2 linked regions of the Homo sapiens genome follow. The protein of the gene in region 2 purifies or fractionates together with the protein of the main gene of each other region. This does not show direct contact. Each region holds a gene or a part of one and is shown on either strand. Other genes may lie near its edges. The genes, in order: PREPL and TEX30.

Region 1 (3,830 bases), on a different chromosome or scaffold from region 2:
CCCGAAGTGCTGGGATTACAGGCGTGAGCCACTGGGCCTGGCATCTCCCTGGCTTTTTAACACTGGCAGAGCTCAATTCCTGCACTAAGTACTTCTCTTCTTTGCAGTCTGCACTAATTCCCTTGGTGATCTCATCCAGTCATGACCTTAAATACCATTTATATGCTAAGGACTCCCAAATTTACAGCTGTAGCCTGAACAATCCTGACCAAGATGAACTTGTATATCCAACTGACTACCCAACATTTTTACTTAGATGTCTAATATGCCAAAAAATGTCCGAATCTGAACTTTAAATCTCCCCATATATCCCTCGCCCTATTAAAAAAAAAAAAAACAAAACCCTGTTCTCCAGGCAATCTTTCCAATTTACATAAATGACAAATCTGTCCTCCCAGCTACTCAGGCTTAAAAACATTACAGTTGGATTTGTCTTTTTCTCTTGCCACAAACAACTGGTCTGCTAAATCCTCTCAATTCTACTTTCAACATATATTTAGAATCTGACCACTTCTCACACTTGGACTGGACTACTTGGCTAGTATCATCATCATTTCTCCCTTGGATTACTGCAAAAGCCCAAAAGCTTTCTCTGCTTCTGCGCTTGCCTCCTGGTCTATTTTCAACAAAGGAGCTTGTGTGAGTCTGAAGTCAGATTATGTTACTCCACTCAAAACCCTCCAGTGGTTTCCCATCTTGCTCAAGAGGAAAAGCAAAAATTCTTACAATGGTCTACAAAGTCCTAAAGAATCTTGTCCCATTACATTGCTGACCTAATCTACTGCTACACGCCAAGCCCACTTATTCCAGTTAATCCATACTTGATGTTTCTTGAACATATCAAGCTTGCTCCCATATCAGTTTCTTAGAACTTGGGCCCTATGCCCAAATACCTCCTTAAAGCTATTGCTCAAATGTCATCTTCTAAGTTAGGCCTTTCCTAACCATTTTACTAAAATAACACCCCTCCCTATCCCCACACTGCCTATTCACATCTTCCCCGTCTTTTTTTTCTTTTCTTCTTCGCCATAACTATCGCTTTTGACCCACTTTGTATTTCATTCATGTAATTCTTTTTATTTTTTTGAGAGATGAGGACTTGCTTGTGTCCACCTCAGCTGGAGTGCAGTGGCATGATCTCGGCTCATTGCAACCTCTGCCTCCTGGGCTCAAGCAATTGATCCTTGATCTCAGCTCTCAAGTAGCTGAGACTACAGGCGCCACCATGCCCAGCTAATTTTTGCATTGTTTGTAGAGACAGGGTTTTGCCATGTTGCCCAGGCTGTTCTTGAACTTCTGGGCTCAAGCAATGAGCCCACCTCAGCCTCCCAAAGTATATTACAGGCATGACCCATTGCACCTAGCCTTGTTCATGTAATTCTTTATTCTTTCTCTTTTCCTTTCTCAAGTAGGATGGTAAGCTTCACAAAGGCAGGGATTTTTGTTTATTTTGTTCAGTGTTATATCTCCAGTGCCTAGAATGGTGCATAGCAGGTGTTCAACAAATATTTGCTGAGTTGAATAAAATTCAGACAGCATAAAACATAAAATGAAAAAAACATATTTAACAAAAGATATCACAAAGTGAAAAAAATAATAATAGAACAAATATGGAGAAGATATCTACAGCACATATAAAAGACAAAGGACACGTAAAGAAATCTTATGAATCAGTAAGAAAAGGACAGACAATTAAAAGAAGGTCAAAAGACAAGAATAGGCATTCAAGAAGAAAAACTATAGGATCAATAAGTGTAAGAAAAGATGCTCACTGGCCATGAGTGGCAGCTCATGCCTGTAATCCCAGCACTTTGGGAAGCTGAGACAGGAGGATTGCTTGAGCCCAAGAGCTTCAGACCAGCCTGGGCAACATAGCAAGACTCTGTCTCTATTTAAAAAAGTTTTGGATTTTGGAGCATTTCAGATTTTGTATTAGGGATGGTCTACCTGTACTACAAGATATTAAAAAAGAAAGGTACTGTGAATGAGGCTAACTTAGGTCTACTTCTGACTCTACTAGTTTTCTTACTTAACTTTAGGCTCTGTGGCTTTAGTTTCTTCATTTGTTTAGAAAGAATACACACGCTTCCTGATTTTAAGACTTATTACAGGCCAGGCGCAGTGGCTCATGCCTGTAATCCCAGCACTTTGGGAGGCCAAGTTGGGCAGATCACCCTGAGGTCAGGAGTTTGAGACCAGCCTGGCCAACATGGTGAAACCCTGTCTCTACTAAAAATAAAAAAAAAATTAGCTGGGCATGGTGGCAGGCACCTGTAATCCCAGCTACTCGGGGGGCCTTGGCAGGAGAATTGTTTGAATCTGGGAGGCAGAGGTTGCAGTGAGCTGAGATGGCACCACTGCACTCCAACCTGGGCGACAGAGCGAGACTCCATCTCAAAAAATAAATAAATAAATAAATAAAACTTATTACAAAGCTATAGTAATTAAATGTGTAGTACTGGCATAACGACAGACATATACAAAAATGAGATGAAAGTGAGAGTCAAGAATAAACCATTGAATTTATGGTCAGTTGATTTTCAGAAAGGACACCAAGACAATTCAATGGAAAAAGAACACTCTTTTCAACAAATGTTGCTCAGACAATGGATATCCACAAGCAAAATAATAAAGTTGTACCCCAATCCCTTGCACTATAAACAAAATGAACTCAAAATGGGTCATAGGGCTGGGCATGGTGGGTCACACATGTAATGCCAGCACTCTGGGAGGCTGAGGCAGGAGGATTACTTGAGCTTAGGAGTTTGAGACAAGCCCGCACAACAAAGTGAGACCCTGTCTCCACACACACAAAAAATCAAAAAATTAGCTGGGCATAGTTGTGGGCCCAGCTACTTGCAAGGTAAGGCAGGAAGACAGCACGAGCCCAGGAGGTTGAGGCTGCAGTAAGCCATGTTTGTGCCTCTGCACTCCAGCCTGAGCAACAGAGTGAGGCCCTCTCTCAACAACAACAACAACAAAAAAAGTATCAAAGACCTAAAGAAAGAGCTCAGATGGGATGATTTCTGGGGTATGTTTTCTAGCAATAAAATTTATGGTTATATGAAAAGAAAAAATGCATTAATTTAACTATTAATTCATTCTATAAACACGTTGCTTATCTACAATGTGGCAGTCGTTATGCTATGTGCTGGCAAGATGTGTATTATAAAATTCTTGTCTTTAAGGACCTCCCAATATAATGGGGAGACAGGAAAAGTTTAAAATGATGTAGTAATAGCAGAGAGGTAAATATAGTGATTTGACTCCTATGGCTTCAACTACTATCTACATGTAACAACTCTCCCCAAATTCCAGACTCATATATCCAACTGCTACTGAAATCTCCACTTTACTAGTGAGTTATATTTATCCTTTCCTCCTCTCTTTTTTTTTTTTGAGATGGAGCCTCGCTCCCATCACACCAGGCTGGAGTGCAGTGGCACGATCTCAGATCACTGCAATCTCCACCTCCCGGGTTCAAGTGATTCTCCTTCCTCAGCGTCCCGAGTAGCTGGGATTACAGGCATGCGCCACCAGGCCCGGCTAAAATTTTTGGATTTTCAGTAGCAATGGGGTTCTGCCATGTTGGTCAGGCTGGTCTTGAACTTCTGACCTCAGGCAATCCACCCGCCTCAGCCTCCCAAAGTGCTAGGATTATAGGCGTGAGGCGCCACGCCCGGCCTTCTTCACCCTTAAGATCTGAATATCAGTAAGATTACATACATGACTGTGAAATAAGTCCATCTGAAACATAAAGATAAACCAGGTACGTTTTAGAATTTTGAGATTTTGGAATGTTAACTGGGTACCTTATCTCAGTTTACAGG
Region 2 (3,029 bases):
CAAGTCAAGAGTGGAATGAGTGAGACTTTTTCACTACATATTCTTGGTACCTTTTGAACTTTAAACCATGTTATTGTTACCTATTGAATGAATGAATAAATAAATGTTAATGGGAAAAATGGGTGAGTAATGGAGATCCTGATGTTGGTAATGTCTTAAACAATACAAGAGCTCTTAACATAGGAAGGAATGCTGCATAACAACCCCAAAATTTCAGTGGCTTACATTTTATGCTCATGGATCTTCAGATCAGCTGTTGGTCAGATGTTGGTTAGACTAGTCTGGACTCCAGACTTCAGTTTTGGGTTCAGTTCTGTTCCGTGTGTCTTCATTTTGAGACCCAGGCTGAAAATGCAAAACCACCTAGAGCATGTTTTTCTCATGGCTGAGGGTGAAAGTTCAAAAGGGCTTCTGGAAGTTTGCCATGCCTCAGCTCAGAAGTCACACATTGAAATGTCTACCTACATTCCATTAGTTAAAACAAGTTACGTAGCCAAGTCCAAAGTAAACAGGGTGAAGACATATATACTCTGCCTTCTAGCAGCACTGTGAAGTTCCATGACAAGATGTGGATGGGTAGGCTTGGGAACTATAATGATGAAGAAAATGGGTTAATGGAAAGATGCTGAAAAATTAAGTTTAGGATAGTTGGTTTAGAATGAAGATTCTTACAAAAATGTGTATTTATACATTTTACATTACCATATTTTGACAAGATACAGCATCCTACTTTGATATGAATTACCTTACAGTTTCCATGTCAAAGTATCACCTTTGTTTTATCTTCTATAACATCTACCAACCCTGCACCTGGCCCTCTAACCAATTCTGAGTGCCCGTAGAAAAATGTACATGTAAAGACACCAGATTTTAGGGAAGTAATTCTAAATGTTTATTTTAGCTACTGAATGTGTTCATTCATAGTTTTTGTGTCATATCCATGTCTGCCAACTCACCTTTCACAACAGAATCTTCTTTTCAGGGAGATGTCCTTTGCTTCTCAGATGTAAATGCACTTTAAGTTTGTTATTCAACAGTGAAAATGAGTCATACAGAGGTAATATTTTCGTATGTTCTGCATCTTCAGGGTTCCTGGTTTTTTGTTTGTTTGTAATTATGTGGCTTCAGAGTAATTTTATTTTCAACTTTCACTGTGGGAGGCAGTATAGCATAAGTGGTTAAGAGCGAGGAATCTAGAGCAGACTACCCTGAGTTTAAATCCTAGCTAGCGGCTATATAACCTTGGGCAAGTTACTTAATCTGCTGTGCCTTATCTATAAAATGGGGATAATGATAGTGCTTGCCTCACAGAATTGTTAGAAAAGTGAAATAAGTTAATACATATAAAGCACTTATAATAATACCCGACACAGTAAGCACTTAACTACTATTATTAATATCACTACTTTTTATTTGGAGGCTATGACTTGAATTATGAGCCTCACAGAGCAAACATATATATAGCTGTTCAGTTGTCTTAATAGGCAAGAAAGTAATTTTTGATCCCTTTATTCTCTTGAATTCCAGGTTAAATTAAAAATACCTTTTGGAAATAAATTACTAGATGCTGTTTGTTTGGTACCTAACAAGAGCTTAACATATGGAATAATTCTTACACATGGAGCATCAGGAGATATGAATCTTCCTCATTTGATGTCACTGGCATCCCATCTTGCATCTCATGGGTTTTTCTGCCTGAGATTTACCTGTAAAGGCCTTAATATTGTACATAGAATTAAGGCGTATAAATCAGTTTTGGTAAGAAAATTTCTTTATATTTACTTATAACAGAATTCTGTTTGAAATCCTTAATAAATGTAAGATAAATTTTATTAGTCATCTGGTTTAATTTAAAAAATCTTTGAATGAGTGTATTCTTAGAAAACTCAGCAGTACATGAAAGCTTTTTAGTCGTCAGATTTCCCTTGTCATCAGTTTCCATGGAGATGAATGCTTACATCATAAATGTTCCTCCGTGATATTGCCAAGGAAGCTACTTATGATTTTTCTCCCTGGAATTATGTAACTTTAGCACATCATTTTGGCATTCTAGAATATTTCATCTACCATACTATGCATGTATAAATATGATACTGTTTTCTGTATATGTTATTTAGAAACCTTGCTTAAAATCCTGGATAACACTAAAGTTTCTCTAAATCAAGCTTGTCCAACCCATGGGCCACATATGGCCCAGGACAGCTTTGAACGTGGCCCAACACAAGTTTGTAAACTTACTTAAAACATTATGAGATTTTTTTTGCAATTTTTTTTTAAGCTTATCAGGTGTCATGAGTGTTAGTGTATTTTATGTGTGGCACAACACAGTTCTTCCACTGTGGCCCAGAGAAACCAAAAGATTGAACACCCCTGATCTAAATAATTTCAAGCTTACTAATAAGTTTTTTAGAACTTTAGATGTTAACATTATCAAATTTGGTATTAGTTGGAAGCCTTTGCTGGCCTTTTTAAAAAATAATTCTCTAAAAAATAGTTTAGTGCTTAAATATTTTAGTAAAGGTAGATTGACTTTTTTTCTCACATATTTGCCTGTATTACCTAACATGTGATTTAATAGTGAAGGCATGACCAGAAGAGGAAGGACTGCTTACTTCTTTTAAGAAAAATCCCTTAAGATTTTCTGGTTATCTTTGCATAGATTTTCATACATTTCAGTAATGATGAGAAACAATATATCTTGCCTTTCCAGTGGAATATTTTATAGGTGAAGAACTGATGATTTTTTTATTTTTCTAGAATTACCTGAAGACATCAGGAGAATACAAACTTGCAGGTGTTTTTCTTGGAGGTAAGTGCAATACTTGTGAATACTTGTTAATTACCTGTTTTAATATAGGAATAGGTAATGGAGAATTAAAATTAGTTGATCATAGGAAGCTAATTTAAGGATTTTTTTTGTTGTTTTGGTAAGTCACCTTTTTAATGTTAAAGCACTTTATATACTTAGAGCAAACTTGAACCTCATGTATATGTATTATAATCTGAGCCTCTCTCCTTTTATTCATATC

The links.
Region 1: the proteins of TEX30 (region 2) and PREPL purify together in Homo sapiens (affinity purification with mass spectrometry; one large-scale study listed by BioGRID and IntAct). This does not show direct contact.

What each region holds. Positions count from the first base shown.
Region 1 is NC_000002.12:44,351,192-44,355,021, forward strand, and holds part of PREPL (prolyl endopeptidase-like), read right to left. Parts: intron 1-3,830. UniProt on the Homo sapiens protein: Serine peptidase whose precise substrate specificity remains unclear. Does not cleave peptides after a arginine or lysine residue. Regulates trans-Golgi network morphology and sorting by regulating the membrane binding of the AP-1 complex.
Region 2 is NC_000013.11:102,768,040-102,771,068, reverse strand, and holds part of TEX30 (testis-expressed protein 30), read left to right. Parts: intron 1-982; 5' UTR 983-1,042; coding exon 1,043-1,057; intron 1,058-1,527; coding exon 1,528-1,758; intron 1,759-1,865; exon of another isoform or gene 1,866-1,965; coding exon of another isoform or gene 1,966-2,079; intron 2,080-2,757; coding exon 2,758-2,809; exon of another isoform or gene 2,810-2,843; intron 2,844-3,029.